4 linked regions of the Homo sapiens genome follow. The protein of the gene in region 3 interacts with the protein of the main gene of each other region in a biochemical or structural test. Each region holds a gene or a part of one and is shown on either strand. Other genes may lie near its edges.

Region 1 (7,454 bases), on a different chromosome or scaffold from region 3:
TTCCTCTTCTTCTTCTTCTTCTTCTTCCTCTTCTTCTTCTTCCTCTTCTTCTTTTCTTCTTCTTCTTCTTTTTTTTTTTTTTTGAGATTGAGTCTTGCTCTGTCACCCAGGCTGGAGTGCAGTGGCATGTTCTCGGCTCACAGCAAACTCTGAATCCCAGGCTCAAGTGTTTCTCCTGCCTCAGCCTCCCAAGTAGTTGGAATTACAGGTACCCACCACCATGACCGGCTAATTTTTTAATTTTTCGTAGAGATGGGGTTTTGCCATGTTAGCCAGGCTGGTCTTGAACTCCTGACCTCTGGTGATCTGCCCGTCTTGTCCTCCCAAAGTGTTGGGATCACAGGCCTGAGCCACTGCACCCAGCCTGAATTTGTTACTTCTGATTCGTGTCAAAAATGGCAAACACAAATTTCACTTCAGGGAATGGAGGATAGAATGATAGAATTGCATGGTTGAAAGACTGCATGGACCTTTAGTGGGCATTGTGGAATGATACTTTGTCTCAGCATTTGGTCATTTGATCTCCTTAGCTTTACATTAATGAGACTTCACCACCTCCATATATCCTGCTGCTTCCATCAAATTGTTATGAAAGATAGCAATCCTAAAACTTCTCTTCATTCAGACCTTTTGCTCAAAAGTAAGTTTCCTGAGACATTTTGCTACAAACTCTGAGTCTATGAGAAATTTGGACCTAGGAAGTGAGCTTGTAGCATGGGCCAGCTAAGAGAAATTTTAGTTGACTATTGTTCCTTTTATGGCTAACATGATAGACATACGCATTTGGATAGTATAATGGGATCCTCCGATGCCAATGTGGTGTCATAGACGACCAAGACTGACATGTTCTTCCTGTGATAGTGGTGGAGAGTGTGCCTCGATAACTCTGTCCATCACCTCGGTAGCAGTCCTGGACCCCAGTGCTGTTTTCAGTTGGTGCTGAAATTAAAAGAGAAAATCAAGCTCAGTATTGCCTAGAAAAGGGAAATGTGAAAAAAATTATGACACACAAAGTGGAATAATCTGAGGATTAACAATTTACACTCTTCTATATTAGCATGCAAATTGAAATGTAGAATAAAAATACAAATAGACTTATAGGATTCTAGAAATTTAATAAGTAGTCATAAATATTTTAATTCAACCCTGGAAAACAAACAAACAAAGAAACAAACAAAAAACAGATCAGAGTGCCTATACTTCAAAATTACACTCATGTGAATGGTCTTTTGCTTACACCTCTTCTGGGTGTTCATGAGAACAAGGCAGGAGACCAGGGTGCCATGCATCAAGCTGTTCAGGCTATAGGTGGTGATTGGCTGTTAGTGGGGGGTATACATGAAACCCTTGCACACTAGACCACTGCTCCTCCAAAGCAAAAGCCTTCAGATTCTGGGGTGTGGGGCAGAAAAGGATCTTGCATCTAGGACTTGTAGGTAAAGACACATTGCCTCTCAGGGAGAAGGAGTACAGGCCAAAATTTTATAGCCTAGGAGGGGAGACAGGGAATCTTGGGCCCAGGATCCCTCATTACAAGAAAGCTGACATCCACTACTCTTCTTCTCAAAAAACAACGGAGATAAATGTTCCATGAGAAGCAGGGATGAGAACACTGAGAAATCCCTTCCCTCAAATCCTAGGTGTGGAAGGCATGCCCAAGATGAAGGTAGGCTGGGGAGATAAACAATTTGGTGGCTATGTACTGCTTCAAAGTCTCAGGACAATACGGATCTAATGAAGACATGTTAGGTTTCTCAAGAACAACAGCCTCAAAAATGGCATTCCTTCAAAATGGTAAAGCTGAAGACTGCAATAAACACTGCCTACTTGAAGAAAGGGCTGGACAGGCTTAGGAGCTTGGTATATCTTCACAAGTTTGGCAGGATGTTAGAATATCCATCTTGGCTAGGACACTAATATGATTCGTTTGATAACAGGGAAGTGATAAATCCAGTGTCCTAGAGGGTCTGTGCCCCTTTTAAAGACACCATCCCTCACAAGGCACTCAACATCCCAGCTCTGGTCCCCCCAGAGAAGGCACTGAAGCTTCCTTCCCATTGGCTGTCCATGACTTCACCTTCGACTTCCTGTGCAGCATGGAAGTTTTCTGCATCACAAAGATTTTGCAAATCTTTTTATCCCAATGTCCGAGGGTATGGTTGTCTGACTGCAGGCTTCTTACCTTCTTCAGAAGGAAGCTCTGTGCTTGGAACTGGGACCACCGTGGGAGTTGTGAGGAGAGTTGATTCCATCACTGGACATTGCGTCAGGTTGCAGTACTCCCATCTGACACTGGGATCCATGGTATAACACCAAGGGCGAATCTCAGCATCTGGATTCCTGCAGTAGTTCCTGGTCAGGCCACTGCAAATTCCAAAACAATACAGGTCACCAGAGATTGGAGAAGATACAGCACCACCTGGCACCCTCTATGTTTTCTTGTAACAAAGTGTAAACAAGCAAATTTGAAATATTCTCACTAAAGTCCCATAACACTCACAAATGGTCCTCAACTTCTAAACAACTGTCAACATTTCAAAGACAGCTTATGATTCTTATTGTAACACATTCAAAGTAATCTATGCTTTATAAGAAAACTGAGAGAAAACATCAATGTGTACCAGAAAGGATCAGAATACCCTCCTTCTACCTTCTGCCAAATACATTCCTTTGGATTAACCGAGAGGGATTTTGAAGTGTGTCTTGGAGATTGTTTCACGTACATACAAATGTTTATCTGTCAGGCTGTCTGTAAGTCTCTATAAAACTGCATGATCTATTCAGTGTTTGATTTGCTGATTTGTTATTTACCTAAGCAATCCATCCACATGATCTACATTCATGAATTTATTTACATACAGTTGATCTCAATATCTACTTCTCAGCTTTCACACCTGGAGGATGCTATAGCAATGGCATCTCTCTCCTGTTACTCATGATGGTGATGGATATGCTCCCTCCTTGGTCTGTCATCTGTTTAGCCAGACTTTGGCCAATCATATAGACTTTTCAAAGAACCTAACTTTCTGTTTCATGGATTTACTCCTTTGTTGGTCTATTTTCTTTTCCACTGAATGTCATTGGTTTGGACTATTTCCTTCCATCCTCTTTCCTTGTGCCTTATTTGCTTTTCCTTGCCTAGATATTTAAGCTGTGGTCTTAGATCAACAGCTGTCAAAGCTGTTGTTCATAGGAACCCCCTTTTTTTCTTTTTAGCTTTGAATTGAGGCAACTTAACTATGATATATCCCAGTAAATCATAGAGTTTTGCTCTTTAAAATTCTATACCTGAGTCATTTAGCTTCTTGACTATGAGTTTCTTGTTTTCTGTATATTTGGCGTGTTGCGAGCCATCATCGCTTCAAGTATAATGTCTGTCATGATATCTTTTTCTTCTCCTTCTGTGACTTGCCTAACACATATATTAAATGTGTGGATTTTTCCTAGATGCCCTTGAGGCTCTGTTGATTAATAGGTTCAGTCTTTGTGTGTGTGTGTGTGTGTGTGTGTGTGTGTGTGTGTGTGTGTGTGTGTTTCTGTCTGTTGGTCTGTCTGTCTGTCCTGTGATTTGTGTAGCTCCTATTGAATTATTTTCTAGGTCACCTTTCCTACCGTAATGTCTAAAGTGATGATAAGGCCATCCAGTGAGTTCTTCATTAGAGATGTACCTTTTCTCAGTTCTTTAATTTTCATTTGGCTCTCCGGTTCTTTTCTTTTCTCTTGCTATTCTGCTTTTGTTTCTCTCATGGTCAGCTTTTGCTGACATTTTCCTGAAACACAGTTCTCAGAGGTGCATTTTAAATGTTCTCACCAATGTCATCAATTCTATAATTTCTGGGCCTGTTTGTGTTGAGTGATTTTTTCTCCCAGTTATGTATCACAGTGAAAGCTTCTTGTGTCTCTATTAAATTTTTAAATAGAAGTAACGCAATAGGAATGCCATATAACTGAGCAACTTGTATTTGTCCCTTGCCTCTAAGGGGGGTTGAGTTTTTTTTTTCTTGTGGAATGCAGTTAATTTACTTGGAGATCATTTGGATCCTTTTAGACTGGCTTGGAAGAAGGGTTGTTGGAGTTTTTCTGGAGTCACCTTGATTCTAGGAATAAGATGATCCCAATCCCAAAATACAGCTTTCTTTGGTCTCTACTGAATGCCCAAAATGTAGTGAGGTGTTTCTCCTCTGAGTGGTCAGAATTCAAATATCCCCCAGTGCTATGTGAGCTCTGGCATCTCCATTGAGCTTACTGTTCCCCTGCAGTTGTTCTTTCCCAAGTAGCTTTTCTTTGTTGTTCTTTCTTTATGAAAACTCTCCCTGTGCATACGCAGCTTTGTATTTAGCCAAAGCCTTGAGGAGACTTCTGTGTGTATTCCTGGAGCTCCTTTCTTCCACAAATCCCTTCTCATTCTTAGCCAGCCTAGAACACATCAGCTGCCTGAGGCATCGCAGACTCCAGTCTCTCTCCTCAGTTAAGCAAGACTGCTGTGGTCAGCTGGGCTCCATCTGCTTGTCCTTCAATCCAACACTGTGTCCAGGAAGGAAGACAGGTTAATGATGAAGTTGATCTCCTTTGATTCCCTTTCTCAGTTCTCTCAAGCCTACCATATCTGTTGTCCAACCTGTGAAAACTGTTTTCTCATGTATTTGATAGTCCTTCATGGCAGAAAGGCTGGCATAGCCAGACATGGGTTTCTGTCCATCTTCCTGAATGTGTAACTCTTCAGCATCTCTATACTTCCTGACTCTCAGCTGCCTTCCTCCTTTTGCCCCTCATGGGCTGGCAACACATAGCTTTTCAGACACCTTGTTCTCAGAACCCAATGTGTTTATACAGGTTAGAGGAGAAAGTGATCGGAAGATCTCGAAGTCAATATAGATATCCTTCACTTGTTACCCAAGACAAACATGGCAAACACAACCTTCACTCCAGGGCTTGGAGATTAGAATGACAGAATTCCCTGGTTGAACTATTTCACTGGTCTTTAGTGGGCATTGTGGAATGGTGCTATTTCTAAGCACATGGTCATATGTTCTTCTGAGCTTTCTATTCATGAGACCTCACCACCTCCAAGTATCCTCCTACTTCTATCAACTATGAGAAAAGAGAGCTGGCCTGACATTTCTCTCCTCTCAGACCCTGTGCCCAAAGCAAGAAGCCTGAGACATTCTGTCCAACATTCTGGGTCTGAGAGAAATTGGGTCATAAGAAGTTAGCTGGAAGCATGGCTCTTCCAGGAGAAATTTAAGTGGGTGGCTGTTTCTCTTGGGAGAAAACTCAAAGACATACCCATTTGGGTAGTATTCTGTGGTTCTCTGATGCCAGTGTGGTGTCATAGAGGACCAAGACTGACATGTCCTTCCTGTAACAGTGGTGGAGAATGAGCCTCGATAACTCTGTCCATCACCATGGTAGCAGTCCTGGACTGTGGGGCTTTGCTCCGTTGGTGCTGAAATTCAAAGAGGAGAAAACAAACTGAGTAATTTCCAGAACACAGAAGCATGAGAAAAAAAATCCATGATAGAAACAGGACATCATCTCTGAAAATGACGACCATGCTCTGTTCTACATTAGTAGGCAGATGGACATGCCAATAACAAAGCTCAAAGATTCATAGCATTCTGGAACTTCAATGAGTTTTTAGAAAGATTTTCTTTAAAACCTGGGCACCAAAGGACAGATCAGAGTGCCTATCAGTCAAAATTGCACTCATGTGCCTGTTCTTTGGCAAAGATCTCTTTTGGGTGTTCCTGAGAACAAGGCAGGAGACCAGAGTGCCATGCATCAGGCGGTGCAGGCTGTAGGTGGTGGTTGTCAGTGGGGGCAGACATGAAACCGTCACACATTTCTCCAGAGCACTGATCCTCCAAAGCCAAAGCCTTAAGTTTCTGGAAGATGGGGCAGGAAGTGGTCCTCCATCTAGGACTTCCAGGCAAAGACACATTGTCTCTCAGAGAGGGGTACTGGCCAAAATTTTATTCCCTTGGAGGGACGGCGGGAAATCTTGGGCCCAGGATCCTGCATTGCAACAAAGTAGACATCCACTACTCTTCTTCACAAACAGCAACACAGATACGTGTTCCATGAGAAGGAGGGGCAAGAACACTAAGAAATCCCTTCCATCAAAGCCTAGGTGTGCAGCACCTGCCTAAGATTAAGGTAGACAGGGAGATAGAGCATTTGCTGGCTATGTACTGTTACCTAGACCCAGGAGGATATGGAACTAAGTAAAGTCATATCAGGTTTCTCAAGGATGACAGACTCAAAAACCACATTCCTCTGAAACTGTAAAGCTGAAGTTTGCAATGAGTACTGTCTACTTGAAGAAATACCAGGAAAGGCTCATGATGAGCTTGGTAAATCATCACAAATTTGGCAGGATGTTAGAATATCCATTTTCACTAGGACACTGAAATAATCTATTGAATAACCAGGGGAGTGGTAAATCCAGTGCCCTAGAAGGTCTGCACGCTTCCTAAAGACACCACCCTGTCACGGGGTGCCAAAAATCTCAGCCCTGGTTCCCCCAGAGAAGGCGCTGAGGCTTCCTTCCCATTGGCTGACCCTGAGTCCACATTCAGATTCCCGTGCAGCATGGAAGGCTTCTGTATCACTAAGATTTTGCAACTCTTTTTATCCCAACGTCCAAGGGTGTGGTTGTCTGGCCAGAGACTTCTTACCTTGTTCAGAAACAGCCGTGGACGTCGCAAGGACACTTGATTCTGTCACTGGACATTGTGTCAGGTTGCAGTACTCCCATCTGACATTGGGATCCATGGTATAACACCAAGGACTAATCTCAGCATCTGGATTCCTGCAGTAGTTCCTGGTCAGGCCACTGCAAATTACAAAACAATACAGTTCACCAGAGATGGGAGAAGATACAAGGGCACCAGACATCCTCTACATTTTGTTGTAACAAAGTGGTAAAAAGTGACTTTGAAATATTCTCACTAAAGGTCCTGTAACAATCACAAATCGTCCTCAACTTCTAAACAACTGTGAACATTTCAAAGACAGATTATCATTCTTATTGTAACACATCCAAACTCGTCTATACTCCATAAGAAAACCGAGAGAAAACATCAATGTGTACAAGAAAGGATCAGAATACCCTCCTTCCACCTTCTGCCAAATATGTTACTTTGGATTAACTGAGAGATTTTGAAGTGAGTCTTGTAGATTGTTTTATGCACGTACAAATGTTTCTCTGTCTGGCTATCTGTATGTCTTTCTATAGGAGTACCCAATCTATTCAGTATCTGGTTTGCTGATTTGTTGTTTACCTAAGGAATTGATCCACATGATCTACATTCATGAATTTATTCACATACAGTTTTTCTTGATATCTTCTTGTCAGCTTTCAGACCTGGAGTATGGTATAGCAATGGCTCCTCTCCCCTGTTACTTCAAATGGTGATGGTTGTACTCCCTCCTTGGTCTGTCATCTGTTCAGC
Region 2 (7,454 bases), on a different chromosome or scaffold from region 3:
GGACTGCGGGAGCCCAGACCCCAGAGCTGCCCTTCCCACCGCGCCGTATCTACGCCTGGAAGACCAGGTTTGCAGACTCGGAGCGCATGCTGTACCTTTGCAGCTATTGTCCTCTGTGAGCTCATAGCCAGTCCCGCAGCTGCTGTCCCGCTGGCAGCGGAAAGAGCCCACTGTGTTGATGCAGGATTCTCCAAGCCGGCAGCTGTGGCTGCCCGTGATGCATTCATTGACATCTAGGAGAGACCGAGGCAGTGCGGGGGTGACCAGCAAGAACGACCCATCCTAATACATCCTAGAAAGGAATGTGCCAAAGCCACGGTGGAAGTGCTTCCCTGCACCCTCGCAAACTGAGCTCAGGTCCACCATGTGCACATCCGGGCTGTGGACTGCACGGAGTCGAAAGCAGTGATTTCTCTCCCCTGCTAACGTTCATATCTACTGCTTTTTCTGAGACTGTAGTTATGTGGTCCTCAAGAACCCCACGGAGGGGCAGCATCTTCTCCATCTCCCCCATCTCACAGACGCGGGGGCCAGGAGAGGCTGAAGGATGTGCCCAAGGCCACTCAGCAGATCCTGGATCCGGAACCTGGTTAGACCCCAACTCCATCCTCTTTCCCAACCCCAGTGCTTATATTGTCTTGGAGGGAAGTCTCGGCAGGGGCCTCTGCGCTGCAAACTCCAGCGAACACGAGAAAGCGCGTCCTGGGCTGCTCTCCACCCCTGAATGGGGTCTGGGTTGTAGAAGGCAGGCCCTGGTCAGTCCTCCAGCACAGAGCTCCCAAGCACAGTGACCGGCCAGTCCTGCTGGCACCTGGGATAGGGACATTACCTTCACAGGAGACACCATCAGACAGCAGCTGGTAGCCCACGAAGCAGGAGCAGACCACCTCGTCACCCGTGTCTCGGCACTGCTGCTTGCAGGGCCCGCCTCCTGGAAGCACAGCGTGCATGAGCCAGGGATGGACGCACCCAGGCACCGCCTGGTTTCTAGCTCCGTTCAGGCTGGGTCATAGAAAACGCCCTCTGGGCAGACGAACCCAGGAAGGCAGGCTGACCTGGCTGGAGCCCACCTGCTGCCCTACTGGGAGACCCCCAGGCTCTGGCTCTGGACACCCCCCAGGGGCTGCTGCTTCAGGTCCCAACCTCCCCGTCTGGAAAATCAGGTGGTGTGCAGGGTGCCCTTTGTAGGCTGGGGTGGACCTGGAAGGGGCGAAGCAGAGAAGAGCTCACTGCCGGTCACAGACATGGGGGTGTGGGCTCCACGTGGAAGGCCAGGCCCCAACTAGGCCTCATGTACCTGCTCCTCACTGAACTCTCGAGCTGTCCCACTGCTCCAAGCCCACTACCATGGCCTCAGTTCCTGCAGCTGCCCACCTGGCTGTGGCCACAGCCTCCTACCTGGTCTTTCTGCATAGCCCAGAAGCACCCCACAACCTGTTCTTCCTACAGGGTGGCCAGAGTGATGCTCAGAGTGCAAATCTCATCAGGATAAGCCTCAACCAGGGAAAGATTCTACGAGATACACTTCTAACTGCTGCCAGCCTGCCTGCTTCTAGGGCCCCTCTCTCTGGCCCTGTAACCCCACCTCCTTCCCCAGCCCACTGCCTCCCAGTACCCTGCTACAGTGGGTCCGTGCCCTTTACAAGGCTTCAGGTCTCCCTGAGGACCGTTTCAGGGTTATTTTCCCAGCTAATCCCACCTCCTCCTTGCAGACCAGCTCTCCCCTCCCCAGAAAGCTCCTCCCATAGCCCTGAGGCTTGCTGGGGCTCTAGGTCACTCCCTTCCTCCCTCCACCAGGCCCCTGGACAGCGCCCCTGGACCAACTGTCACTGTACACTGACTGCATCATTTAAGAATTAAACTGGCCCCTAATTAACACCCTAACCACAGGGGGAACCACTGAAAGAGCTTGTGAGGCAGATCTGCAGGTCTAGACATGCCAGAATGTTCCATGAAAGAAAAGCAGTTTTATCATATGAAAAACAAACCTGCGAGGCCCTTAGTTAAATGTGCAGACATCTCCCTGTGAGGCAAATGAATATCACCAATGGTGACAGAACCGTGGCTGGGGCTCCAGGGGCACAAAGGCAGGGAACGCTGAGCCCCCTCCTCTCCCCTGAGAGCCTGAGGGAGGCCTCTGTCACCTTCACAAGGCCTGGGGGCTCGGTAACGTGCAGGCTTTCCACACCAGCTCTGGCCCTGGGCCTGGGCCACCCTCCCCAGCAGGGCCTCACCAGGGCCCCTCCTTGGTAAGCCCACCCTTCCCCTCCCCAGCCAGCCCTAGATCTGGAAGGGGAAAGGGAAGGAGGAGCTGGGAGTCCACGACTCCTCAGGGTGGAAGTGGCTCATGGCTGGCTCCCAGCCAAAGGGTACTTTGCAGGGTAAACCAAAGCAAAACCTGGATTCCAACTTCCAGTGAGATCAGCACCGAGATTCCTTGGTTTTGCTTTTTGTTTGTTTGTTTTTTTGTTTTTGAGACGGGGTCCAGCTCTGTTGCCCAGGCTAGAGTGCAAAGGTGCAGTCATAGCTCACTGCAGCCACAACCTCCTGGGCTCAAGGAATCCTCCTGCCTTGGCTTCCCAAAGTACTAGGATTACAGGCCTGAGCCACCTTGCTGGCCCCTTGGGGTTTGTTTAAATACCAACTGATGGGAGACGCCCGAGTCTCACCTCGGCAGCGGTCATTCAGATATGGGTCCTCTTGTTCCTCCTCAACCTCAATGATCTTATCTAAGGGGGAAAAAGACCAAGTCAGACATTTATCCAAACACCCATCTTATCTTAAAAGAAACTCCCAACATTCTCTCTTCTTGTCACTATCAGGCAGTAATGCCCATTTGAACATCTTATATAAACAGCTAAGTATTAACTTTATCCTCTTTAAGCTAGAATTACACTTGAAAATGTATAATTGATATCTGATCAATTATAGGCCAGGCGTGGTGGCGGGCACCTGTAATCCCAGCACTTTGGGAGGCCGAGGCAGGCGGATCACCTGAGGTCAGGAGTTCAAGACCATCCTGGCCAACACGGTGAAATGCTGTCTCTACTAAAAATACAAAAATTAGCCAGGTGTAGCGGCATGCACCTGTAATCTCAGGTACTCAGGAAGTTGAGGCAGGATAATCGCTTGAACTCAGGAGTCGGAGGTTGCAGTGAGTCAAGATCACACCATTGCACTCCAGCCTGGGCAACAAGAGCGAGACTCCGTTTCAAAAAAAAAAGATCAGTTATAACAGAAAGACCACAGACACAAAGGCCTGTAATCATTGACTTCATGCTGGGTGATATTCCCATAGTCCAAATTACTTGACCATCTCAGCAAATGCAGTCACAGCCTTGCTAACAACCAACACACGCCCTCCAAGTCTAAAGCAATGCACGCAGTAAAAACTTGAGTCTCCTGATTGATTCTATCAAATGCTATTATGTGTTTGAAAAGGGTTATTCTCCATTTCTGTACTTATTTGTCGCAGGCCAGCACTGGTCTGGGGACCTTCTGCATGGCCCCCAGGAAACATACAGTGGGTCCATGGCACTGGTAGCAGTGGGAGGAAGGTGCGGCTGTGAAGACAGGAAGCCCTCCCAGAGGAGGGAGCATGCGAGGATAGTCTGGGGCAAGGACTGAAGCAGATAAAAGACGGAGAGATAAAACATCTAACATCTGGAGCTGCAGAAAAGCCCAGAGACTGCTCACGCTGCAGACATAAATCAGTGAAAATCCACCCCCGAGATGCAGGAGAAATCCTCCACCAGCAGGAATGGTTTGGGTTTGTTTAAAGTGAAAATGTCGTCTCTGATTTCAAAAGCCAAGGAATGAGGCAGAATGCGGCCCCAATCCCTCTTGATGACTGTAACATCTGAAATCATCTCAGTGGCATCCATGGGGCCCTGGACTTGAAAAACTAAGAACAATAAGTGAAAGATGAGTCCCGGGTGACCCGGGTCCTCTGTGACCAGGGGCCCTACAGCCTGGACTTGAAAACCTAAGAACAAGAAGTGAAAGGTTCCGTGTCACCCAGGACCCTACAGCCATTACCTTGACTTAGAGACTACAGGTCTGAGGGTTCTTCCCTTTCGCCCCTTCCGGCACCTCCCCACCTCTTTATTTATTTTATTATTTTTTTTGAGACTGAGTCTCGTTCTGTCACCCAGGCTGGAATGCAATGGCGCCATCTCGGCTCACTGCAACCTCCGCCTCCCAGGTTCAAGCGATTCTCCCTGCCTCAGCCTCCCAAGTAGCTGGGATTACAGGCGCCCGCCACCACGCCCAGCTAATTTTTGTATTTTTAGTAGAGACAGGGTTTCCCCATGTTGGCCAGGCTAGTCTCGAACTCCTGACCTCAGGTGATCCGCCTGCCTCGGCCTCCCAAAGTGCTGGGATTACAGGCGTGAGCCACCGTGCCCAGCTCACACCTCTTTTATTTTTTAAGAGAGTGGGGGCAAAGCTCAGAGAGAGGAGGGAACAGGCCGAAAACTACACAGCAAGCTTGGCCCAGGCGGAGTCCTGCCTTCTTCCAGGTTAATTCTGTTACAGCACAAGAAACCGTGGCCTAAGTGTAAGAGGCTACTGGACAGCCACAAAGTCTCCTGAACCCTGTAACTGAACCACACAGAAATGCAGGGCGAGGACACAGAACGGGGGGGCACACAGCTGAGAGCGCTCTTGAAGCTGCTCTTGGGGTCACATGCCCCTTTGCTGAGTAAGTGTCTATGATTTGACAGAGCATAGCCAGCTATTAGCCAGCGATGGCCCCCAGCTGCTCGCCCATACATCGTCAGCTCCAGATGGAGAGGGCACTGGCCAGGAGGTGGAAGGCCAGGCTCTCCCTCCTCCACGTGTCGGCTGTGCGATCTTCAGCATCAGACCCTCACCCAAGAAGTGGGAGCAAGGCCAGCCACCCATGCTGCCCCGGGCAGCTGAAGGGACAAGGGCAGATGGTGAGGGCAGACATTTATGGGGCCAGGTGCTCTACCCAACCCTTGACACCCAATCTCGCACTCCATCCTCCCAGCACCTGATGAAGTAGGACTGCAACTATCCCCACTTCCCAGATGAGGGGACCAAGGTACACATTAGGACCCGGATGGGAGCACAGATTTGTCCGATCCCAGACTCCAAGCACTCAGCGTCACTCCAGGACAGCGGCTTTCAGATAAGGTCACAAACATGAATGGCTCCGACAACCGGAGTTAGTCCGTGCTGAGTTAAGGCAATGGTGACACGGATGCACGTGTTACCTGTAATGGTTCATCGTAAGTGTCAATTGGGCTGGGGTATGGTACTCAAATATTTAGTCAAACACTAGCCTGGATGTTGCTGTGAAGCTATATTTTAGAGATTAATATTGGCCAGGCACGATGGCTCACACCTGTAATCCTAGCACTTTGGGAAGCTGAGGCAGGTGGATTACCTGAGGTCAGGAGTTCCAGATCAGCCTGGCCAACATGGTGAAACCCCATCCCTACTAAAAATACAAAAATTAGCCAGGTGTGGTAGTGTACACCTGTAATCCCAGCTACTCGGGAGGCTGAGGCACAAGAATCACTTGAACCCGGGAGGCGGAGGTTGCCGTGAGCCAAGATCACACCACTGCACTGCACTCCAGCCTGGGTGACAGAGAGAGATTCTGTCTCAAAAAAAAAAAGAGATTAACATGTAAGTCTGTTGATGCTGAGAAAAGCAGATCATCTTCATACCATGGGTGGGCCTCACTCAATCAGCAGAAGGCCTTCAGAGAAAAAAGACTGGCCTCCCCGGGAAAGGCGGCGTTCTGCCAGCACACTGCCTTTGAACTCCAGCTGCAATGCCCCTCCTTCCCTGGGGCTCCAGCCTGAAGGCCTGCCCTGCAGATTTTGGACTTGCCAGCCCCACGATCACATGAGCCAAGTCCTTAAAATCTCTCTCTCTCCACTCTCGCTCTATATACACATCCCGGAGAACCTTAATACACTGCTCATTAGGGAAGGAAGGGGGAAAGTTACCCGTTTCTTGGAGGCCCCCGACATCCAAATCTCCGGTCTCCTGGCTCTTGACACAGCATGCCTGGAAGACCTGTCCACACTGGTAGCCAACCATGAGGCTGTACTCGCAGCTCTGGCCCTGGGCCTGGGCCGCCCTCCCCAGCAGACAGCAATGGCAGCACCTCTGCAAACACAGGTGGAGATCCCAGATGGAGGAGCGGGCAGACAGCCCAGCGGGGTCCACGAGAGGCCTCAGGGGAGGCCTCTCTGAGCCCCCTGTCCACACAACCTGTAGAGTGATGACTCAAGTCTGGCTTAGATACCACTTCTAAATGTCAGCAACAAATAGCAAAGCAAGGCCATCCCCCTACTCCAAATCATCTAGGTCCCAGTTTTGAAAGGAAGCTTAAAGGGCCTGGCATCCACCTCCCCTCCCCACCCCAACATGCAATTGCACCCCTCAACATCCCTGCCCCGCCCAGAGACCACCCGGCTCTGCTCGCACACATCCAGGAAGAGGGAGCTTCTTATAGCACCATGCACCAGCTCCAAAGTTCTGTTCCTTTTGCATGGTCTGAGATTTCTCTACCATGCCCGGAAAAATGACACACATGCATGCTGCCTCTCCGTTTTTGAGTTAGAGGGGTTCTGGCAGCAGGAATTGCACCGTGCATTTGAAAGCACAGGAACTTCAAGACGAGTCATCAAGCAAGGTCAAAGGACAGGGTGGCTGTCTGCCACCTGGGCCCAGGTCCCAATAGTTACTTCCAAGTCCCTGTGGCCTCACACCTGAGTCCCAGAAGCAACATTTGCCCTGACACACGAAAAGCCCTGCTTCAGTCTTTATTAAGTGGTTATCCTAAGAGGAGCACAGAACTTTCTAAACAGTCCCCAGCAGGAGCCAGGAGGTGTAGCTTTGCCTCAGTTATGTGGCACTGATGGGTCTTCCAGGCTGCTTATTCTACGCCCTCCGCTGCCAGAAAGTGTAGGGAGCATCAGTCACCTCATCCATCTTTTGGGGTGTGAGTAATCCTTCCTGGAAACACAAGTCGCTCATCTGCCAGAGAGATCTGTTCCCACTCCTGCTAGAATGTTCTGTGCTTTTTCCACACCTCTCAAGTCTGGGGACATGGGCACAGCTGTGTGCCGGACCGACGGCATCTGCAAGGCCCAGCCCTGCATTGGGTGTTGGGTGGGAGGGTGCGGGGGCAGTCATGAAACGCCCAAAGTCCTGGTTCCCAGGCACCCCCACCATCACCCCACCCAGCTCTCTCCTGGGCCAGAGCCCTGCCCTGTGAAAGCCCACACAGGCCAAGGTGGGCAGGGGACTCGGGACCCCCAACTCCTCCACACGGAGTCCCTCCACAGCCCAATCTATGTGGAGAATCCCCACAAAGGAGCTCCCACACCCTCTCCTGGAATCCAGACTTCATTCAGATTCTTGTTTCTTAAAATTATTCCATCACCTTCCTAAAAGGAACGGGAAGCTTC
Region 3 (7,764 bases):
CTATGAAAATTTTACCAACTAAACAAAGGCAGTGGCAAAATACAAATGGAAAGGTGGCACCCACATATCCTAATTTGAAATTTTGGGCCCAGACCAAAGAAAACAAGAAAGAAAGCCTAAACCAAAGGCCCAATATGTTTATGTTTTGAATTTTATTTCCAAAATAAACAAACAAAATAACAGTGATGGTAATGTGGGTCAGTGAAACATTAGCAGACTGCCATGACTACAGGCTTTCTCTGCATGAGAGAGCCACCACTGCAAGAAACATCAGTGCACCCACCAGGTCTGGGTCAGCGTGAAGACAGCCTCCAGCATCAGGGGCTTTTCTTTCTACTTTCTTTTGAGTGGCAGCTGCTTTGGCTGGACGAGCCCGATAGCCACCTCCACTGATGGGCGGTGGGGCAGGCCTCAGGCTGGGAGCCTCTTCTCTCTTCTTGTCAAGGGGTCGATGACCACGGGCACTGAAGAAACCCTACAAGGAATGAGGCAGAAATATAATACAGAGTGTTATAGAAGATTTGGAATGTAACTATTCCAACACCCTCATTTTATAATTTAGGTTATCACAAGCTTGATAATTTGCTTAAGATCCATCAACTGGCTGGTTGGTGATAGTGAATCTGTAGGTTGCTTACTGTTCAGTAACAGTAGAAAGACCAACTGCACAAAAAAGCTATGATGCAGTGTAGTTTTTAAAGAGAGGCCTTAGGATAAAGCTGTATCAGATTATGAATAGTAATGACCTCATATTCCTAAAACATACATTGGAACTTACGAAATTGTAAAGAATCTATACTGTCAAGAAGAATGAATATTCTCAAGCCACTTGGATTGTTAGATTCCTATGATTATTGTTAATCATTTCCCTACTTTCATTTTTGTGAATTGGTGATTAGACTCCTATATAAACATATTTAAGAGACATTAAAGACTTATTAAAGGTTGATTCTACTTGGAATTTATTTGTAATAAGACAATCTTTGACCCTCATAATGTACTCTGGAGCTCGGCTACTTGTAGGTCTTGACCGTAGGGTTGACTTACAGCTATGAGACCTTGGGCAAGTTGCTTTATCTGTGCCCCAGTTTTCTCATCTGTAAAATAAGTGTAATGATAGTTTGAATCTGCCTTACAAGATTATTGTAAGGATTAAATAACTTATTGCATATGGTACCCTCAGAACAGTACTTGGCAATAATAAGTGCTCATTACTATTTTTACTGGAATCACACATAACAAGTACTACAGTTTAAGTGTCCTCTCCACTTCGAATTTCACTTTTAGTCTTATCTTCTATCAACAAAATTATTTGTTAAACCATTATCTTGAAATTTCTTACATGATTTCTTTATCAAACATTATGATTTTCTTATATTTAAAATAATTCTCAAGGCTTGTGCATTGTAATTAAAATTACTTGCTAACTTAAAATATTATATTAAAGGATAATGAAGCAGAAAATACGCATTGCAATAGGAAAGTTTTGATTTGGATTAACTACATTCTCATTTTTTTTTTTGTCAGTAGCTATACATCCTTTGGAGCTTAATTACAAATTAACAAACGACATGATTTGGAACAACTGAGCAACAACTGAGCTCTCTTGCAATTTTGTGAGTCTAGAAGTCATCAGATGAACTCTATTTGGAATTGCATTGTCATTTATTCATTAGATTATAATATTATTTAACATTTAGTAGGATGGTGCTAAGATTAAAACCCAGCCAGGCTGGTTCCAGATTTTCCTGTTTAACCAGTTGACTATATACATTCTTAATATGTAAAGATTCGGAGGATATATACATATTTCACATTGAAGTCATGGTCCTAGTCAGAGCTTACCCTCTCTAAAACAAATTTTAAGAAATGTGATTCATCTGCTTATTACAAATACAATTATAACAGAGAAAACTATTTTCTTTTTATTTCAGAGTGCCACTAGAGAGGTAGCATGGATGGTCTGGCTTTACTAGAGAAAAGGAAATTTTAAAAAATATTTAAAGAAAGTATATACTTAAAGAAAAACACTTAAAGAAATTATGAAGGCCACTTGTTGAATAATCAAAATCCATTTTAAAGCCTAAACTATTAAACTATCTCTGTGAGGTTTAGTTGATAAGCAGAAATGTGAAAGTGCTTTGCAGAGTACTTTACAAAAATTTCGTCTTACACATTCTTTACATTTTTCTTACCTAATATGATTAACCAGACTTAACCAGATTAACCATATGTTTTTACACACACAACCAGATTAACTATATGTTCTTACATGTAGAGTCTGATAAGTACAACACTCAAGTTCCCTTGAAACTCAATAATGATCCGAAATGAATCACTTCATTTAAATATTATTGTGTATTCTTATTTCTAGTTTAATGATACTATGCTATATGTAAGAAATTTGGCCATGATACGTTTGATGATAAAATTTAAATTTCTTAAATATCCATTGTCCTAAATGCATTTCTGTATTTTTAGTAACTGCAAATTAACAGCAATAAGTCAGCAAAAATAATAGTTGAGGACAAACTGTTCTACAAATAAATAAATTAGACTGAACCGTGTTTCATAACTATTAATAATAACAATACACACTAACTCTAATTTGAACTTTTCATCTGAAAAAAGCAATATTTCATTTTCTATCATTACACTTGATGTATTTTGCTTTTAGGCTTAGTTATAATTTTTATAAATAGTAATCTCAGTAACAATATATATTACCTTCCTTCACCAAAGAACAATCTACCTACCACCAGTTTCTTTTATCTTAAAATTCTGCTCTTTTATTATTTTATAGTTTGTGAGATTTTCAGATCTTGTCCTCTTAATTGTAATCCTGTATTGCTAGAAGTAAATGAAAATCACAGTACTCAGAATAGCAAGTGAGAAAAACACATCTTACATTAGCTAAGCCATCCTCATCTTAAGAAAACAAAGGTGATAAACTAGAAAACAAGAAATTACTTTGTTTTTATATAAGAAATACTATGAAACATTCTTTAAATACAATAAGTCAGAGGTTAACAATTCCATTTCATAACTATAAGCAATGCTAATTTCATTAAAATAAGCACATAATATGATTATGTTACATCTTATATTAATAATACTACTAATAATATAATAATGCTTTAAAAAATTCACCTCCTCATTGTCGTTGACACCTTGGGACTTAACTAGAAAAACACACAATAGTAGCAATAATAGATGTTTCATGGTTTTAAGTTTGTGGAAGCTCCAAGAAACCATCCTTTTCATGTAGACTTAACTGAGAGATCTTCAATCCTATATATATCTGAGTCCTCTGCTAGGAATGACTTCAGAAATGGTTACCTTTCCTTAGTTAATATTTAATTTTTGGTTCACTTGTTGGCTGAACCATTTTATCATTTAAGCAACATCTTCCCAGCAAAGCTTATTTACTTGTCATACAACTATTATTCTTTGTTGGTCTAGTTTAGAAACATTAAATTTCTTCAATTCATTTAATTGGACAAAATGATGGGAAGTTAGGGCACTCCTCAAAGAGAGATGTGTATCTTGTTTCTGGTAAATTAATGTGGAAACTACACAAGCTCCGAAAGAATATGTGAGAAAACAAATCTAAGCTTAGTAAATTTGACCTACTCACAAGGCAACCACTAAAATCGTGACTCATTAATGATATACCATAAATGCTTATGTTTTCTGACAATGACATAATTCTATTTCAAAAGGGGCCATTAAAATCAATAGTAATGTTATATCATAATGTGTTTATCTTTTGTTTTAGACATTAATCAAAATAACAAAATAACAAATTCATACCCTATTCTATGAAAAATACACATCAGAAAGACCCTTTTTTTGTGCTGAATAGCTTTAATATTTTGTCCTTAATTCACATAAGGTAAAATGTTCAACAAATTCTAAACATTATTAAGATAACTAATAAATTATAGATTTCTGAATCAAAATTATGATGATGATTAAATACATGTTTAACATTCTATTTTATTGTTATATAGTTTATATCATATGATTTATAAAAACAATGTTATTTTAACACTGGTGAAGTCTTCATACATCTATTTCAATTAGTATGCTCACAGACTAAATGAGGCCCATTTTCCTTCATTTCCCACAAGCCACAAAATTTATCTCTCTTGTCTGTTCACTTGTGTGTTGCAATCAGGATTAATAACTCCTACAAGAATCAATAGGAACACCAGTCAGTAATCCAAATCCCAGTAAGTGCATTGATTCAAAGCATTTTTCTGTTTTTTGTATGGAAAGTGAAACATTCTCATTAAATTTATAAATTATTTTATTAAAAAGATGGCAGGTTATCAGGGTTTGGATCAGCGTATTGAAACAATGCTTTGAAACAGAGTCTTGAGAATGGTGTGGGACCCACGACATTTCTTTCTTCTCCAGGTAGCAGAGATTGCATTCCCAAATTCTTTTAACTCAGATTCCTAGAAACAAATTATTCTCTTGGTAGCATAGGTTGTCCTCCCAAATTCTTTTAACTTAGCTTAATAGAGACAAAGTACTCAGTTTAAATTAAGAAAAAATATTCACTTGAGTCTTTCCAAATTTGTGTTCCCTTTATTAGCAATGAGTAAATATTATATTTTAAGATTTTTTTCTTTAGCTTTAATGGTTTTTAAAGGGATACATGATCTGACAGAAAAAGCAAATATCTATGTGGCTATTAATTAAAATATATACAGGAATATTTTCCATGAAAATATAACTGATAACAAAGTTTATTTTAATAATCTAGACAGGATTTTATTTTAGTGACGTACAGATTCTTACAGATTTAAAAAGAATTATCTGTTAAGAAAACTCTAACCTTTTTTTTTTCTTTTGAGGTAACGTATTACTACATTTTCAATGACTGATGTTTGATCAACTAACAATAGAATCATCATTTAACTTTCAGAAGTCTGTAAATTTGTAAAGTTTTTTCTAGTATATAATAGACTCTTGTTCAACACTAAAGTGAAGGTTCCTTTACTTTCCTACTTTGTTCTACTCTGATTGGCATTCTTCCCATGGTCAGAAGGAGGATGGATTCAATCCAGCATGCATGCACCATAACAGCACAGACTTAACATTCATCTTACAAATAGTTCTTGAGAGTCTCCTCAGTGACGGGTAGTGTGATAGGGGCTGGGAATGCATTGGTGAGCAAGACAGACATAGTAGGCGTTCAATACATAATTACGGGATGAATGAGTGAACTGGCTGTCATTGGTACATGCCTCAGATGCCAAATTATGGTAGTCATTTATCGTATTTAATTCTTGAAACCACTATGTTCTACAGATGGTGAAACAGGTTCAGAGAGGTTAAGTAAACTACCCCAGAGTGTATAGGTAGTAGGTGCTGGTATGAGGACTTGACCCCTGACTGTCTGACTCTACAGTCCACACTCTGTGCCCATTACATTATATTTCCCAACAGGATACAAACATTATAAAAATTTACCTCTACCTTCTTTTTGTGTGTTTGTTCTTTTGGAGTATTTTGGCCAGCCTGTCATCTTGGGACCATAATGTATCAGGCTGACACACTCACTCATAGCTTTTACTTTCACTTATCTTTTTACCCTCATATGTGGGTATAGTATTCATGTCTGTGTGAAGCATGTGCAATGCAGTGATAATGAGTTTTTGTAATTCTAGTTCTTGTTAGATATGTCTTTTTTCTGTAGAGTTATGTACAGTTACACTGGGACTCTAAATTGCCTAATATTACAAAGAATATTATCATGTTTTCAGGGAAGAAATATATTTGCAGAGACACCGCTTATTAAGATGCTTAAATTTTTTTAGAATGTTGATGCCATTGGTGGAGGGGAAAGGGAGTACTATTTGTTCAGTTATTTTGAGGTCATCAGTGCAGTGTTCTTCATATTAGCTGATGTCATTGCATAAGTCAAGGGTAGTAAATCAGTGACAGAGAAAACAGAGATAATCTGTCCTGCCCAGCAGCTCTCTGGCTTGAAGGGCAAAGACTTGCCGATACCCATTGTCAATACACTTGTTGATACTTTTACAACTCATGTCAGGCCCAGTCTCCATAGCACAAGGCAATTTGTGCTTAACAACTATTTACAGAGCATCTACTTCATAGCAGGTAGTTTGCTGGGGGCCGGGGAGACCTTGGCGAAGCCTTAAGTCTAAAAGGAAAGACAGAAAATGAAAACTACTTACAATAATTAGTGTTGAGCCTAAGATTGGGGGAGGTGAGGCTTTGGGACTGGTAACTTAAGGATCTAACTTTCTTCAGGGGGAAACGAACTTCAAAGGAAAAGGGCTTTTAGACTTGAAACTTGGTTTGAATGACTGTACAGTTTATGTCATGCACCTGGCACATAGCCAGTATTTAATAAATATCGGTTGAGCAAATTCATGAATATATAAATGAACGAATGACTAAAAGGAATACTGATTCTCGTTGTCTAAATATGCATAGGTTTTGAGGTACTGTAATAAGTTGTTAGTCTCTGTATATATTTTCCTTGTGTTACCTTGATTAACACTGACGAGTTGGAGGCCAGGCTGGACCAGAGCTCTTGGGGCAAGCCTGAGAGCAGTGCAGTGGTGACACCTGCAATTTGTTGGTCATCTTTAGTGGGAAAGCATATGGTGGGGAAGAAATAGGAGATGACGCCATCTCTTGTGGAATGTCTCCCTCTACTGGCTTAGATGTCAGTTTCCATTTCTTATGGGAGCTGACATAGAGCATGGTAATAAGGGATAATAGGACATTTTCTCCTACAACAGGATGGAGATCACAAGAGCTAAGAAAAGATAGAGATGCTCTTCTGCTTTTGTCACATTGAGACCCACAACCATTAAGGGTGTAATGAACACCTCTGGGAGTGCTGCTCCCTTCTCCTGGAATGACCCCTAAAATGGAGGTATGAAGCTCCAGTGGTCCTGTCAGTACTACAACACCCTGACCCTCTAACCACAGGTGACCAAGCTAGGGGTAGACAGACCCTTTACGCAAGCTAAATCTACCAGATTGTCTCTCCAAATTTGATATTTGCTGGAAGAAGAAGGAGGAGGAGGAGGAGAAGAAGAAGGGGAAGGGGAAGGGGAAGGGGAAGGGAACTGGGTCAATTGGACTGATGTTATATCCATGGCAGCATTTTAGAGGGAAAGCCTACCAACTGCATCAACAGAAGTAACCAAAACGTCCAAACATAATAATTTGATTCTTCACAGCCCAGTCTGTGAGACACCTGATGTCCTTTCTATAGTACTCATTTTACCTTTCATTAACTTTGACTGAGATGATTTTTGGCATTTGTTGAGAAAATTAAGATCAAATTTTTAGGAATCAGACTGGCTGTCTTATTTTTAAGCATAAATTGCAGGTTAGAAAGAGAAGCTTTATATTCAAATAATGTAATCAATCACTAAAAGTTTTCATATATTAAGCATATGGGCTGGGCGCAGTGGCTCACAGCTGTAATTCCAGCACTTTGGGAGGCCAAGGATCACTTGAGCCCAGGAGTTCGAGACCACCTTGGGCAACGTGGTGAAACCCTATCTATACAAAAAATGAAAAAATTATCTGGGCATGGTGGCACACACCTGTAGTCTCAGCCACTCCAGCTACTTGGGAGGCTGAGAGGTGGGAGGATTGCTTGGGCCTGGGAGGTTGAGGCTGCAATGAGCTGAGATTGCACCACTATACACCAGCCTTGGTGACAAAGCAAGACCCTGTCTGTCTCTCTCTGTCTCTCTCCATCTC
Region 4 (7,454 bases), on a different chromosome or scaffold from region 3:
CCTTGAAGCCATGCTAGGAAGGCTTCAGGAGAATGGGGACACTGTGCTAGGCAGTCAGCTGAGCTGATCCATTGTTTGTTTTATCAGCATTAAACCAGACACAAACACTGATTCCCAACTTGGGGGTTATGCAGATTTTCTACTAAGGCTATTAAACAGATCTCAGGGGGAAGTTCTCCAGCTCTGATTATAACATAGAATTGGAATTTTAAAGTGCAAAGTTCTTTTTATGTAGCTTGCACTCCTAGCTTCACACTGACAGAAGAAGATGAGGGAAGCTGAGAAGGAAAGTGGGTGAGGGGAGAGGCCTTCAAGAGGCAGCATAGCATAGACTCCAGGGCCAGGCTGCCTGGACTTGCCCCTGTGAGCTGTGTGACTTGGAGCAAGTTGCTTCAGTTTGCTTATTTATGAAATGAACATAATAATAGTACCTACCTCACAGGGTTGCTATGAGGATTACATGAACTAACAAATACAAAGTATTTAGAACTCTAAGTGAGTTGATATATGTAAAGTTCATAGCTCACAGTAAGTGCCACACATATGTTTTCAATTCTTATTATTAATTATTGTTATTGCTGTTAGGCCAGATGGATGGACTTTTAAAGGAGCAGAGATCCTAACATTGTAATATCCTAACCTGACTATTTGGAACCTGAAGACCCTATGCTTTTATATCCAGCCCAAAACTCAATGCTTTTCCTCATCCTGACAACTTCATGACCTAATATTTTCTGTTTATTTAACTGGTTCACCTGCTAATGAAGACCCTGGATGCAAAGGACTGGATCTCTCTTACGGCATAATCAAGGCTACTAGTGGCCATACGGGTAGCAGCCAGAGTGTGGGCTCTGAGCCTCCATGTGCCCCCAGTATGCCAACAGTAACAGCACAGGAGAGTTACCTTGCGGACACTGAGACAGGGCCGTGGTGATGCCATACAGCCGGGTCTGCTTGTGGGGTTGGAAAGCATCCGTCTCCTTGGAAATTGCAAGATCGAGAGCAACCACGGAATTCCTACAAAGCACCAAAGGGCAGAAGGTGAAAACACATCTGATGGCTTGAACTTGTATCTAAACAAGGCAGCCTCTTTGTCATTTTGAGGATAAACTGGAGGCCATAAACAGACATGATGGCCTTCTTCCTAGACATCCCTTCCTTCCCCTGGGGTGGGTCAAGCCTGCATTTCTCTGGCTTTTTACAAAAGGGTAAAGACCAGTTAGCTCTCCCCTCCCACTCTAGATCCCAGGCAGGAAATGAGCTTTCTAGACAGATGCCCCTGGCCAGTTGTCTTCTCAGTTTAATCCCTCCTTTTGCAGGAAGGGGTAGTCAGGAAGAGGCCGTGGGAATATTGCAGTTTAACAACTATAATGAAGCAGGGACATGAAGTGGACATGGAGCCCACCGGCCACGTGACCCTGGGCCAACTCCTGGGGAAAGAACAGACGTGCTGAGGAAGTCCAGGTTTAAAGACTTGAAACCACACAGTCAGGAGCATCTGGATGATAAATGGCACCTCCTGTCCCCTAGGGCCTTGTCCTCCCTCCTTCTTCATGCTCCTCTCTTGGCTCCTGACAACCAGAAGGATAAGGGAGAGGGGACATCTCTAGAGGGGGCATTTCTGGAGGCTCAAAAGTCAAGCCAAGAGGCCAGATGGGAAGGGCCTGGCCTCCCAGAGACAGTGGGTGGAGGGGCAGGCCCACGCAGCCCCCATGGCTACAGCTGACGTACATCTTCCAGTCTGTGAAATACAGATTCTTCCCGTAGCTCGTCACAGCAAAAGGATACTGGAGCCCTTCGAGAGCCTTGCGTCTGCTGGGCTGACTGGGGTTCAGGCATTCCGCCCGATTGGTGCCTGTGTGGAGTGGAAACAATTCATTCATTGTTCACACAAGAAATGGCCCCTTTGTGCAAAAAAAACAAGAGTAATGAGGGCAAGAGTGGGAGAAATTAAGCATTACAATGACAAGTCCCAGAGAACACATGAGGCTTGCTCTTAAAAACTGGCAAGTTGTCTCTTCCTCCCGTGTTGCTTCTGCTGGGGAGGCACGAGCCAGGGCAGACTAATGTAAGTTGTGAATTGCTTATCGGTATCAGGGTGACTCCAGGCTCTGTGCAGTGCCACTTACAACACGAGGGTGGCCAACTTTTTCTTAAAGCACCAGATAGTAAATTATTTCAGGTTTTGCAGGCCAGGAGGCAAAACCAAGGACAGTATGCAGGTATCTATACAATTTTGTACCAGTATATATTTAATGTACCAGATAAAACCGTAAAAACCATTCATAGCTTCTGGGTTATATAAAAACAGGTGGCTGGTTAGATTTGACCCCAGGGCCCTAGTTTGCCCACCCCTGACTTAGGAGATTGAGACCCGCCCTGGACAGTGTCCAGCTTTCCATCACCTGCATCCACCCAGCAGAGCTGAGATGAGAACGCATCGAAGGTCAGTCCATTGGGCAAGCCCAGGTCATCCTGCACAAGGATCCTCCGGTTCGTGCCGTCCATGTAGGAAGTTTCAATCTTGGGGTTATCTCTGTTCCAGTCTGTCCAGTAAAGGTTCCTGGAGGAGGAAAAAGGGGGGAAAGAGGAAAAGAAATAATAAGGATGCATGAGAAAAAGTTTATGAAAAACACTTGAAAAGAATTACAATGAAGTGATTGGCAGACATGAAAACAGAATGACTGAAAGGATCGAGAGGTGATAAAACACATTTTCTTTTGCAAAGATACTTGAATTTGGTTCCTCATTTGAGTTTGGTGATTCTGTTACTAACAAATTTGGTTCCCTTTAACATAACTGACATATAATATCTCAATGAAGCTGTTAGCAAAAGAAAACAAAGTAAAGGGCTATAACTGGCATAAATATATGGAATTCCCTGCATGAGGCCCACATGGAGGAGAGCACAGCAGACCCAGGGGACCAGACTAGGACAAGAAGCAGATGTTGGCAGGGGCTGTGGTCAAAGTACCTGCCTTCAAGGAGGAGGCTGAGTGGCCACAGAATAGGAGATGTGGTCTCAAAGGGAAGGAATCAGTGTCGAGGAACTAAGAGCCTGTTGTGTAAGAGGTAGAGCTTGCAGTAAGAAGGAAGAGAAAGCATGGATGTGCCGAAGAAACACACAGGAAGGGATCTCCAGGGTGTTCAGTCTGGGTCTGCCCCTGAAAGCAGCCTCAGCAGTCCATTTATGCCGCCCTGCTACTCTTCTGGAGTTGATATAACCTGAGTGTTGATCCACATTGAAGCCATATGGAAAATATCCAATTTCTGAGCATGCCAACTTGTAAAGTCTCCTGGCAAAAGATTTGAAAGTGGGACATGGTATCAAGTCCACACTGTAATACATGTTCTGGCATTGTACCGTGGATATCTACAAGTCACCAAAACTGTAGACTCTTTCGTCCCGTACTCATTAATTTCAGGAGACCAATGCTGGAGTTAAAGCCTCACATCTGAGAATCTCTAAAAGGGCAGATGCAAATCAAAGAGATGCACACACATATTTACACAAAGATACCCTCTCACGGAATCCGTTACAATGCCTCTGGGATTCACCAAGTCAGTCTCAAAGAGCACCCGGCGCTGCGTGCCGTCCAGCTTCGCCACTTCTATTCGATCCAGGTTAGAGTCTGTCCAGAAGATGTTGCGGCCAAGGTGATCAACAGCGATACCTTCTGGACTTCCAAGATCTAGAAGTAAACACAGAGCTCCTCTAATTTTTTTTGTTTTCTAAGCAGCTGAGATGAGGTTTTTCTGAATACTCAATGTTATTTCACATGGTGTCCAATCCCTGCACTTTAAGAAACCAAATGGGAATGTGAAATGCTTGTTGTTTATAAGATAAACAACACTCAAAGTGACAAATTCAAAAATGCCATTTACTCACTCTGTGGGTATCCATCATGCTGCACGTTGGGAACCAGGACAGTAACAATGACTAAGCCGAGGCCCAGTTTTCCATGAGCCCACAGCCAACCACAGTTGAGACTGAGTTCCAGGTCCTATGGGAGCCTGGAGGAGGAACCCCAGCCTGGGGAGAACAGGGAGGGGTTCCTGGGGGAGGTGACATTGCTTGAAGCTGGCACCTGAAGGACCAATAGCAGTTTGTCAAACAAGGATCCTGGATGAGGGCTTTTTAGGTAGCGAGACTGGCACATAGGTATAAAGGAAGGCTGGATGGTGGCTTAAAGTGAACAGGATGTCATTGTATGTGGCTGGAGACTATGAGGGTGGGGGAGTGGTCAGAGATGAAGGTAGGAGGCCATGTTAATGAACTTAGAACTTAGGCAGAGGGGAGGCAGTGGAAGATCTTAAGATAGGGAATGGAAAAATAGTTCTATCTTGTTCATTAGCTATCGGGGATAAAGGTCATTGAAATAATACTTTCAAGAAACCATAGCTGCTATTACTTTCATACAAGTATAAGGGGTACAAAGAAGGGGTGTCAGTGATTACAAATAACACCCCAGTCTTTACTGGGTTATAGCAACTGATTTTCAAGCCAGGAGTTGCCACTGGGTAACATGAACCTTCACTGCAAACCCTCAGCACCCATCTAACTTTACTGGAAGCTGAAGATTACATTGGTGTTTTATTATATAGTTTTTTTAAATTAATAATAACGATTGTGTTTTATTGATATCACTTAGGACTCTTTCCCTTCTACTGATTAAAGGAATGAAGGTCATTTAGTATGACTGGAGTATAAGCAGGAAGGAGAAGGGGCTACCCTACCTGAGGGATCTGGGGTATGAGGCAACCATTCCAATACTGTGGGTTTTTTTGTTTTGTTTTGTTTTTGACAGAGTCTCATTCTGTTGCTCAGGCTGGAGTGCAGTGGTGCCATCTCAGCTCACTGCAAACCTCCACCTCCTGAGTTCAAATGATTCTTTTGCCTCAGCCTCCCGAGTAGCTGGGATTACAGGTGCGTGCCACCATGCCCGGCTAATTTTTGTATTTTTAGTAGAGACAGGGTTTCACCATGTTGGCCAGGCTGGTCTCAAACTCCTGACCTCAAGTGATCCCCCGCCTTGGCCTCCCAAAGTGTTGGGATTACAGGCATGAGCCACCACACCTGGCTCCAATACTGTGTTCTTCTGTGGACATACAAGCAGTGCAGACCCTCAGCCCCCTTTGCATTAGCCTTCGCCAGAGCCCTAATATGATGGTGACCTTGGATGCTGGACACATCAGAGCCCCCAGAAAGAAAGCCCGCCAGAGGAAGTTTATTGAGAATTAGAAACCCCACTTGAACAAGATCTTTATTATCTAAACACAAAGTAGAGATTTTTAAAATATTAAAATATTTCCCATGTCCCTAGATGAACAGGGACAGTGAGACTGACCTCCAAAGGTCCCTTCTGGCTTTCAGATAGAAACAGAATAAGTCATTCTGGAGTATATTTGGAATGAGCACATCCTGTGTGAGAGACAAGAGCCACTCAGATATACGCAAATAAAACAGAGAATATAGGCTGCTCTGTGAGAGCATCTTTGCGAGGCACCTGGAGGAAGCTCCATGAGCTCCGTGCATATTGTCTCCTTAGAACCAGCCTTGGTCCCGATCTCAAACCCAAGAGCAACCAACCCCCTCTCCCTCAACTCAAAATACTTCTTTATGAGCTACTCTTCCAAGGGAAAGGTCTGGATAATCTTATCCTTCAATGTGCAGTCCGAGGAAGAAGTATTCCTTACTGCTTACCTCAAAGATATGATACTTTTTAGAGATACTTGGTTGGGTCTGTAACTCAAGGAAAGAAAGAAAGCCTGGGATCCGGGCTGTTATGAAATAAGGAAGAAATGAAAATGATACCTAACTGTCACTCTCACTCACTAGGGAAGCACCAACCTGTACCATGCTAAGGAGATAACTGGAAGCTTCTTTCTCTCTTAAAAAAAAAAAAAAGAAAATTATTCCCAGTGATCTTTCTTCTACAAAGATCACATTTTGGTTTAATTCTGTGTTTTCACAGTAACTAGGCTTTTGCTTGGAATGCTTCTTACTGTGCTTACAGCGTTCTTGGATGGTTATGAGCTCCAAAAGCAACAGGAAATAGCAAACAATGACCTATTCCCCTCTTCCACTGGGTTTTAAAATGAAATCATAGATAATAACAATAACATTTTTAACACACGGAGATAGGCATTTTCAAACTGTTTTTCACTAAACCAAAGCATGAAAACTGGAAGACATGATTTAAATAGCCTGTTGGCTTCCAGAAAAGGGTTCAGGGTCTATGTCCAAAGCCAGACATAGTTAATTCAACCTCAGCTTCATTCCTGCCGCATCATCTTTACTGAAGGCAACAAAGAAGGGAAAAAATGCTTCGGGAGTTGTTCCACAGGCACAGGAAATCTTCTAGAATATCAATTGTGAGGGAAACATTCCATTGAAAATAGAAAAAACTACATTCAGTGCCAAGTAAAAAGAAATACAAAATGAGGCTGCTCTATTTTAAAGATGTATCTTTGATGTGAATATTTTGCAGAGAACGCAAGGTGACTCCACAGAACAAATATCATCAGCATGACAATGCCATAGGAGCAAAAATATTCCCAAGTCAGTTGATGAGTCGCTGAATTAAGCAACATGTAATACTTGACCATTTCAGCACAGTGGAATTTTTAGAGGCCTTTGGATTTTTGTTGTAATGGTCTTTCAACTAGATAAATCATACCCATGTAAAACAGTCTTGATTTGTTGAAGGTAGGCATGAAAAACAAAGCACAGAGTCATTGGTTGAAATTGGCATCCTTAATGAGGAATTTCCTCAATTGAGGAATTGAGGTTGAACACTGAAAAGTAGATTGTGCCTGCCGGGCGCCGTGGCTCACACCTGTAATCCCAGCACTTTGGGAGGCCGAGGTGGGCGGATCACGAGGTCAGGAGATAGAGACCATTCTGGCTAACACGGTGAAACCCTGTCTCTACTAAAAAAAAATACAAAAAATTAGCCAGGCATGGTGGCGGGCGACTTTAGTCCCAGCTACTCGAGAGGCTGAGGCAGGAGAATGGCGTGAACCCAGGAGGCAGAGCTTGCAGTGAGCCAAGATCACGCCACTGCACTCCAGCCTGGGTGACAGAGTGAGACTCTGTCTCAAAAAAAAAAAGAAAAAAAAAAGTAGAACGTGCCTAAACTTTACACACTTTATCGTAGTAATGCAACAAAAGACTGAGAAATGTTTGTGAAAGTTTGGCTTCATTTGCTGTTCTTCTCTGGCATACATGGCCACTTTGGCTGCTAGAAGCAAAACCAAAAAGGAAAAATGATATTTGCTTACTTACCTTGTCTAATGATGGTGGTTGGCTCTCCACCATGTAGACTAGCTCTCCCAATGGAAGGCTCAGTGATGTCCGTCCAGTAAACCATCTTGTCCACGCAGTCAAAGGCCAGTCCAATGATGACTTTAGCCTGGATGTGAAGACCAGTGGTTAGAATGGTCCATCTACA

Evidence for each region.
Region 1: the proteins of FGB (region 3) and LPA form a complex in vitro, tested with the Homo sapiens proteins (one study listed by BioGRID).
Region 2: the proteins of FGB (region 3) and FBLN1 form a complex in vitro, tested with the Homo sapiens proteins (one study listed by BioGRID).
Region 4: the proteins of FGB (region 3) and NID1 form a complex in vitro, tested with the Homo sapiens proteins (one study listed by BioGRID).

The regions. Positions count from the first base shown.
Region 1 is NC_000006.12:160,584,267-160,591,720, forward strand, and holds part of LPA (apolipoprotein(a) precursor), read right to left. Parts: intron 6,836-7,454; coding exon 6,678-6,835; intron 5,447-6,677; coding exon 5,287-5,446; intron 2,365-5,286; coding exon 2,183-2,364; intron 940-2,182; coding exon 780-939; intron 1-779. UniProt on the Homo sapiens protein: Apo(a) is the main constituent of lipoprotein(a) (Lp(a)). It has serine proteinase activity and is able of autoproteolysis. Inhibits tissue-type plasminogen activator 1. Lp(a) may be a ligand for megalin/Gp 330.
Region 2 is NC_000022.11:45,526,540-45,533,993, reverse strand, and holds part of FBLN1 (fibulin-1 isoform D precursor), read right to left. Parts: intron 6,148-7,454; coding exon 5,985-6,147; intron 2,730-5,984; coding exon 2,670-2,729; intron 932-2,669; coding exon 830-931; intron 234-829; coding exon 96-233; intron 1-95. UniProt on the Homo sapiens protein: Incorporated into fibronectin-containing matrix fibers. May play a role in cell adhesion and migration along protein fibers within the extracellular matrix (ECM).
Region 3 is NC_000004.12:154,558,519-154,566,282, reverse strand, and holds the start of FGB (fibrinogen beta chain isoform 1 preproprotein), read right to left. Parts: upstream 3,273-7,764; 5' UTR 3,265-3,272; coding exon 3,151-3,264; intron 476-3,150; coding exon 284-475; intron 1-283. UniProt on the Homo sapiens protein: Cleaved by the protease thrombin to yield monomers which, together with fibrinogen alpha (FGA) and fibrinogen gamma (FGG), polymerize to form an insoluble fibrin matrix. Fibrin has a major function in hemostasis as one of the primary components of blood clots.
Region 4 is NC_000001.11:235,978,091-235,985,544, forward strand, and holds part of NID1 (nidogen-1 precursor), read right to left. Parts: intron 7,416-7,454; coding exon 7,289-7,415; intron 3,693-7,288; coding exon 3,521-3,692; intron 2,564-3,520; coding exon 2,406-2,563; intron 1,856-2,405; coding exon 1,732-1,855; intron 1,018-1,731; coding exon 905-1,017; intron 1-904. UniProt on the Homo sapiens protein: Sulfated glycoprotein widely distributed in basement membranes and tightly associated with laminin. Also binds to collagen IV and perlecan. It probably has a role in cell-extracellular matrix interactions.